Linked DNA regions of Homo sapiens: region 1 is linked to region 2. A link means that fine-mapping ties the variant in region 2 to the expression of a gene that starts in the linked region. Tissue or cell type: whole blood. Region 2 holds a variant in brackets; the other region holds the start of a gene. All regions are shown on one strand. Distances are between the middles of the regions.

The links. PIP is the estimated chance that this variant, and not a neighbour inherited with it, causes the effect.
Region 1: SPATA6L starts here. The variant in region 2 is fine-mapped to the expression of SPATA6L in whole blood (TOPMed, PIP 0.98).

The regions. Positions count from the first base shown.
Region 1 is chr9:4,664,617-4,668,759 of GRCh38, forward strand. SPATA6L (spermatogenesis associated 6 like) reads right to left here and starts at 1,864. Exons shown (of 12, transcript NM_001353486.2): 1 at 1,596-1,864. The coding sequence starts at 1,634. It overlaps PLPP6 (phospholipid phosphatase 6), which reads left to right. Exons shown (of 1, transcript NM_203453.5): 1 at 1-642. RefSeq lists silencers at 1,653-1,702, 1,713-1,792.
Region 2 is chr9:4,597,692-4,602,047 of GRCh38, forward strand. It overlaps SPATA6L (spermatogenesis associated 6 like), which reads right to left. Exons shown (of 12, transcript NM_001353486.2): 12 at 625-3,118. Among named protein-coding and RNA genes, the nearest start is that of PLPP6, 62 kb to the right of the region's middle. The variant C/T (reference allele first, on the strand shown) is at 2,582.

The sequences.
Region 1 (4,143 bases), 67 kb after region 2:
ACCTGAAAAGAAATCCTTTAAATTACCTATGGAAGTGATGTCCTCAGATAATCTTAATGACTATTTTGGCATTTATAAATAGAAATGATTATGGACTTTGATCTGCCATACGGAGGTTCGGAACCTGGAGAACGGCTGTGATAAGTAGGTTTTGATTGAGTGAAAGCATGAGCTTGTTCAGAGTGAGGGGCATAGTGAAAAAGGAACAGCCATGCCTCAAAATCAAATCATTTGCATTCCCACAGCATCCTGAATACCGACTACCTCTTCACTTGCTAAAGCAGCTAAACTGTGAAGCTCTAAGTGGTTTGGGTTTGTTGTTTAACCTTAGCGAGATCCTTTAACTGCAGCAATATTCAAGCCAGATATTTGGAAGCAAATGATATTTCCTCTTGCAGTGTCCACAAATCTGAATATTAGGGGCATGAAATTAGGCTTACCATCTGATTTGTAATTACAATTTTGGAATTCTCTGTTTTAGTTGCTGAGGCCTGAGTTTTCTGGCTCTTAAAGCATAGATCATTTCACCTGATGTTTTTGAAGCATCCTAAGTACAGTAGAGTAGAAAACTGATTTCTTTGTTAATTGTACACTGAATAATGCCTTTTAAAAATCAAAATAAAATTAACAAATAATGGTGAATGAAGTGAGATGAAAACTTGCTTAATTTTTGCCTTGATGAGGAGGGAGACAGATTTATCACTTAGCTTCTCAAGAGTTCCTTCTTCCTGCACAATTTTTAGAGCTTAAAACTGGTATAGCACTACTAATAAGGTCTAGCCCTATTTGCTGTCAGCAAAGTGGGACAAATCCAGGAAATGTTGATCACCTTTCACACCCACATGTATGATGAAACCACACCATTTGCCAATTGTATGGAAGACAACCAGATTCCATGACAATTTCCTGTTAGCACTGTGCTTGTAATCATAGCCAGTAGAAAAGCCCCTAGAGGAAAAGCGGCATGATATTCTGTTACTAACTACATGGAAGGATTGGAAAATGGAAACTGAAATAAGAGGGAGTGACAGACCCCCAAGTAGAAACCATGGAGTCACTCTGCCACAGCACTTCACTTAGGAAGGATTTGGTAATTACGAAATAGTGATTGATTGATTTCCCTTTTGGAATTAGCAAGCCAGAGCTATCACTAAGGGGAAATATCATAGAAAATATCTGATTGGTTCATAGAGTTGGCAAATAATCAGGAAGTGATGGAGCTTTTTAAAATTATTCCCTGGTTATTTAAAGAAGTTGAAAATCCTTTCACAAATCTTTATCCAGGAGAAGAAAATAAATTCTACCTGGACTTAATGCAGGGTTGTTTGAAAAGAAATTAAAAATTCATGATAAAGATAAGAAACATGTTAGCTTTAGAACAGAAAAAAAAAAAAGTGGGAACAGGTGGAGCTGAATTAAAGGTTAGGAAGTCAGGGAAAACCAATATGGAGAAAAAGACAAAGGTGCGATCTGTCCCAGAAGATAATGATGTGTTTGTGGTAAGTGGGGGATGTGGGGGAGGGTTGTTGAAAACCACCTGAGACTATTTAGAGTCCGACTTGAGGTTAAGGAGGGGGAGTTCATCGATCTCTTACCGCCCGGATCTGCAGCTCCACCACCACCTCCAGAGGCATCGTTCCCTGCGTGGGCGAAAGGACTGGAATGAGAAGATCCTTTTGTGCCGAGCCTTGGACCAATTTTTCTTAGTTTAGCTGAATACCTAGAGCAAATGTTCCCAGAAGCTTCCCCAGTCCCACGCCCTTGTTCCCCTACCGTCCCCCCCAGCCCAGGTCCCTCCCACCGGGACGGGTCTCTCACACTCGAAGCTGGAGTGCAGGCTTCCAGAAGGCGGAAGCGTGGCGTTGCCAGGGACACTCAAACGCGCAGTCTTCATCGTGGAACGCGCGCGAGGCCCCAGCGCAGACGCGCGCCCTCACGGTCGCTGTTGCCCACGCAGTGCCCCCAGCCGGAGAGACTGGCCCTGTCTGGCGTGCTAGACGGATAGAGAAATGCTAACAATCCCGATCTTCTTTCCATCAGCTCCTGCTATCCCCAATTACCATGTCAGAATGTTTACCGTTTTCATTCTGAAAGTAGAATGAGATCATAGGTCTGTTATAATTTAAATAGTACACGTTTAGTAGCTGCACGACCCCAAGCCTTGTAGTTTCTGTAACAATTCTCATTTAATATAGTTGCCTGTTCCTAAAAATACTCTTTTGCTTATTAAATGTTATGTTTGCTTCGGAAAACATGGCCACCGTCAATAACAAACGTGTGCTAATTAGAAATATAAGGTTAATTCTTAAACATATTTAAAAGTTAGGTATCCCCTGTTAGCAGCAATAGAAATATGTCAGTCTTTCCATAACGGTGTCCAGCCTTTTCTGGGGTTTAGTTTAAGGCAAGCATTGAGTAGTCCAATGGGTAGTTATTGCATTTGCCAAAACCACAGTTACTGTAAACACTGTCAGAGGTGGTGCGCAGAGCAAGAGTTCTGAATGAGTAGGGGACATTCACTACATCTAATAGAGAAAAATGAAGGAAAGGAGCAGGTAGTGGCTCCTTCTAGCAATCCAAAAAATCTAGGAAGGCCAATGCTGCCTCTGAAAAAAAAATTTTAAATCCTAAATTATGTTCAGTCATTTATTACTAATATTTTGCATTAGAGAGTTATACAATTGGAAATAGTGCAGAAGGATGGTCAAGACAAGATTGGGTATTCATTTTGGTAACTGGAGTTTATTTCCCTGGAAGGGAAAAACTTGGTATGATGAAGAAGGGCATATTGTATCCTTATCCAGTTCCTAGTGCTGTGTCTCTCTGCATATCAAGAGATACAGGTGGGCACCTAACTATCTATAGTGTCCAGATCATTGATTTGTCACTCACAACTTGCTGACACCCAGAGTGATGTGGGACAGGACCTGTGATGATCCTAACAGGTAGGTCACCAACACCAATGCTAAGAAATCAAGGAGAGTGACAAGCAAAACAAATTAATAAATAGCCAGAGTTGTATTGGGAGAGAAGAATCAGTCTTTACTGAGGATCTGCAAAGTGCTAGGCACATTGCGTATGCTAATTCATCTCAACCCTACAATAACTCTATCAGGGAGATATTATCCCTATTTTACAGATGCAGAATCTGAAGCTAGACAGCCTTTTACTAAAAGCCACAGACCTAATAAGGGAGCAGCCACATTTGAATCCAGGTGTGCCCTACCACATCACTGGGTCTGCAATATAGACATCCTGTTGATCTCTAGAGACACAATGTTCCATTCTATGCTCTTCTTAGTCTTAACTCTTGATCTAACTGGACTCTCCTTGCTTGGCTGCTAGGGCACAGCTCTCTTCTGGTTTCCCTCCAACTTTCTGGCTATTCTTTCTTTGTCTGTTTATCCTCCTCTGGCTAAGCAATGTTTCTAGGTCCTTTCCTTTCCTCACTCTATACCCTTTACTTAGAGTGTCATCCATTGCAGACATTGATTAACACATGTATACAGATTTACATACCCCACCAAGACCTCTCTTCTGCTGACAAGGTGGAATCTCAATATCATATCTTATGTCATACATATAAATATATATATCTCCTCTTTGTAGCGACTGCCATAATAGCAGTTTTACATTTGTTCCTGTGACTCTTGATTACTATTTGTCTCCTTAATCTGTAAACTCTGCATGGCTAAGCGTTTATACCCTAAATAGGATAGAAGATAATAAATATTTTTGAATATTAAATGCAGAGATGGTCAAGCCAATCTGTGGGGGTTAATGTACATGGATAAAGAGAGGTCCCATCACAATGGGTAAAAGAAATCTGCAGAATTAGAAAGGACCAGGCACAGCTACTTCTGCAAATCTGCTATGGTGATATTAAATGAGTTGATGGGGATACTTCACACTCTCCTAATTGTCCCCGCCATGGTTACCTGAGGCTCTCAGCTGCTGTGGAGATGTGGCAGTTGCTATACACACCCAGTCCCTCTCACTCATCTTGCAAAGTTATTTATCATTGAGGCTGTCCACCTCTGCCGGGGGCCAACAAAGCCTTTTAAGGATTGGACTGTCACCACTTCAAGAGAAAGCCTTTATTACCTGGGTAGGTACCTCTTGGTGGCAGCAAACAGATTTCAA
Region 2 (4,356 bases):
CATCACTGTTGGCAGGGTTCCCAGCACAAGGGAAGAGAGAAGAGGTCTCCCTAAGACCTGCAGGTCCGCTAAGTAGTGCTAGGAGGGGTCCCCTAACCAGAGAAAGACAGCAGTCCCATCCGGTGGTACTAGTGGGTTCTCTGGTCACAGCATGGACTACAGAGCATATCCTGTTCCTCAGGCTGCCCTCCAGAGAGCCCAGCGGGCTCCTTTGATGGACCAACTCAGGGGAGTACTGGCTATACTGAGAGTAGCCTGGCATTTGGGTGCTAGGGCTGAACTCACACACATACCCATCAGTCTTCTCAAATTACACCTAAAACCCGCCACCTCTTTTATGTCAAACATATCATTTGCACTCTCATTTTTTAAAAATCTCTTTTATAATTCATGGCCTACAGGCTTCAGCTAACTTTGGGTCAGTCAGGTGACCACAGAGAACTGGCCTCATTGTACAGCAGCTTTTGTTTGGAGGGCCTAGGTTCCACAAAGGAGATTTTCTTAGGAGCCTCTGCAAACCAAGACCCCATGAAACATGCCCATAAAATATGCTCCAGGCTTTGACAGATCTGCAACCATAAAAATCAAGAAAGGAATTATAAACTGAAGCAAGACAGATGGGAATTCTTTTTATGATGTTTAATGACACAGATCTTCCCAAAGTAATCCAAACCCCAAAACATCACAAAATTATTCATACTATTATACACTCCAAAAGCAAAATACTTCAACTGCAATCCTTGCCCCAGCATGATTCCTCAAAATTGAGATAACTCCTTGAGAAACAAAAGTAAAAATAATAATAATTTAAGGAATAGAGTTAATAGATGCAAAAGTAAAGGGAAAAAAAGCGTAATTTAGTGTGAAAACCAAAAATGACTTTAAATAAGAATGGGCATTTAAGATCTTATTAAAGAGTTATGCTTAAACCATTTCAAAAAACACTGAATATTGAATGTCATGGTGTATATTTTAACAATAACTGAAATGGGATACCAATTCATTAGTGCTGCTTTCCTTTAGCTGCTTACGTAAGCAGCCCTCTCCTGAGACTTATAGCGTAACCTTAATGTAACACAATATTTTCTTACTTTTGATGACTACTTAGAGGTAACATCAAAACAACAAATTGACAACCATAGTTTCAGAGAGACTGAGAACATATTAGCATATGTAATTTAAGCTTGCTGTTGGCCTTGCCAAGGTGGAATGCTGGTTGTGATACAGGTTGAGTCTCCCTTATCTTCAGTGCTTGGGACTGACCAGAAGTATTTTAAACTTGGGTTTTGGTTTTTGTTTTTGTATTTTGGAATATTTACATAAACACAATGAAGTATCTTCAGGATAGGGGATAGGACCCAAGTCTAAACACGAAATTCATTTACGTTTTATATACACTTTATACAGGTAGCCTGAAGGTAATTTTATACATGATTTTAAATAATTTGGAGCATGAAACAAAGTTTCGAATGCATTTGACTGCACCCTGCCACATGCAGTCAGATGTGGAATTTTTCACTTATGGTGTTATATTGGTGCTCAAAAAGTTTTGGATTTTGGAGCATTTCAGATTTCAGATTTTTAGATTGGGAGGTTCAACTTGGATATACCTTTATTTGGCTGAAATTCTAAGAAGAGGATAAATGAATTTTGTTTTGTTGTTTTTGTTTTTGGAGTTCCTTTTCTGTTTTAATTTTTAATTTCATTTTCTTAATTTACCTAATGAACCAATCCCTATGATTACAGTGAGAAAAGAAAACTTGGCTCTCACTGAATCTTCTAAAAACTGAACAAGTTTTAGGGTAGTGTCTTACTCTATTCAGGCTGCTATAACAAAATGTCATAAACTGGGTAGCTTACAAACTACAGGAATTCATTTCTCACAGTTCTGGAAGCTGGGAAGTCCAAGATCAGAATGTTGGCAGATGCAGAATCTGGTGAGGGCCCTCTTCCTGGGTCAGAGATGGCGCCTTCTCGCTGTCTCCTCGCCAGTGGAAGGGGCAAACGAGCTCCCTTGAGCCTATTTATAGGGCACTAATCTCATTTATGAGGGGTCCACCCTCACAACCTCATCACCTCCCAAAAGGCCCCATTTCCTTAGAGGTTAGGATTTCAACATACAAATGTTGAGGGGACACAAACATTCACACTATAGTAGGGCTGGTAGAGGAAAATGCTATGCTTACACTATGAAGGAGGGAAATAAGTTTCCATTTTCAGGCCCCTCTTCTCTGGGTCTGTATCAATGAAGACAAATGTGCCTCTAGTCTCCCTTTATCCCAGCCCCTTCCTATTCCTGCTCCCTCACACTGTGTAAGCATTTCATAGATGCACCTTCCTAACTAACTTTAAAACCTGGCATTGGCAGTCCTATCTGTAGAACCTATTTACTTAATGTGTAGTTCTTTTGGAGAAATATTTGAGGAAGGTTTTGTTCCTCATCTAAATTTACAAAGAATTGCTGGAACGAAGGAGTAGGAAACAGAAGGAGCAGTTTAAACTACGCTCCAGAGGAGCCAGCCTCCTCTTACAAATTTATCACAGACATTCAACATCTAAAACAAGATCTGAACTACCCAGA[C/T]GTAATGCTCTCTTTTCCAAGGTTTTTAGTGGACTTCACGTAAATCAAGCCTAACACTAAGAAATAAACAAACAACAACAAAAACGGATCTACCGAAAAGAGAAAGTCAGGTTGATAGTCTTTCCTGGAGGATTTATCAGGTTATTCCTGTGAATAGCAACTTCCTCTAGCTCATATATAATTAATTTGAGAGAGAGAGACAGAGAGAGCCAGAGAGAGCCAGAGAGAGAGAGAGGGGAAGTGTTCAGATAAGCACCTGCCACCCAACTACAGCGCTTTCTCTTTCATGTTCAAAACAAACATGCAAAAACACAAATTTTCCAGCTTGACAAGAAAATGTTAGCCCCCAAACAGCAAACACTTTAATCAACAACTCTTACCTGGGCACAAAAGACTGAGTACAGGGTTTGGTTTAAAGGGGATTAGACATCAGTGACTCAACACAGACAACAAAAAGTGTTCATTTCTTTAAGGATGCTTCAATTGTCTCAGTGAGTGAGCTCTTCATGATTCTCCTTAAGCTTTCATTAATTTCCCCTGCAAAATTTGAAACATCACATTCTACATGTGGTATTGAGAAAAAGGCAAACAATCAATACAAGTAAGGAGAAAAAGATAATGTCATACTACCCCAATCTTGGCATGTAGCTATGCCTTGGGATCACTTAGTCTCTGAGCTTTTTCCCCAGATTCCCACAACAGAATAACCCAGTGAGCATCTGTGTGACCTTGGACAATTTACTTGACGTCTTTGTAAAATATCAGGATGATGACAGAGTATCTACCTCTTACTATTATAGTGAAGAGTTAGCATTGCTACATAGTAAATGTGCCAAAATAGGTGTTATTCAGTTGAGCTGTTAAACGTGTTCCAATTAACTATATTCTACTGAACAAATTTCCTTCCTTCCTTCCCTTCCCTCCTTCCTCCCTTCCTTCCTTCCCTCCCTCACTCCCTTCTTTCTTCCTTTCTTTCCTTTCTTTTTGATGGAGTCTTGCTCTGTAATTTGGCACTGCACACTGGGGGCCGGGATTTCACGGCAATTATGCCTTCCAAGAGAACTAGGGATAATCTGAGGGGTTTCTTTACGGGAGGTTTTTTTTTTTGTTTGGTTTTTTGGATGTTTGGTTTTTGTGTGGTAAAATTCACCAATTTTAAATATACAAGGGATACTCTGTTTATACCAAAAGTACCAAGTCCCAAAAGATCCAGAAATAGATGTATTCCAACCCCTTCAACCCATTTCTTCCACCCATTCTCTCCCTCTACGTGGTCAGACAATGGGACTCATTGTTTTTGGCTCAAGAATCCCTGACCTTTTTGTGGTAAGAATCTACTTTTTCATCTCCCTGAGATCTCGAGATCGCTGGGGAGCCAGGACCTGGCAGTGAAACAGATATGGAGAAGGGGAGGGACAGGAATTGGTGCTGCCATTAGAAGAGAGTCCTCAAGAAAAGCCGGGACTGGGACACGTAGTGGGAGCCACTGGGTTGTGTGTGGGGGATGCCTCCTGCCTGGGGTCTGTCCTCCCAACCCACAGGAGTGGCTCTGGCTGTCCTGTTCTAGCTATTTGATCTTGCCTGTTTGGATCTTTCCTGGACTCACTGAGATGGATGCTCAGCATCTTTCAAATAAATGCCCCGTTTGCTTAAGACTAGCCAGAGTCACTTGGGTTTTTCACAATCACTAAAGCTTCACTAAAATGACCCTCCAGGATCCCAGCCTCTCCAGGAATCCATGACTCAAGAAGCGGGGTCAGGGAGGATGGTATGGA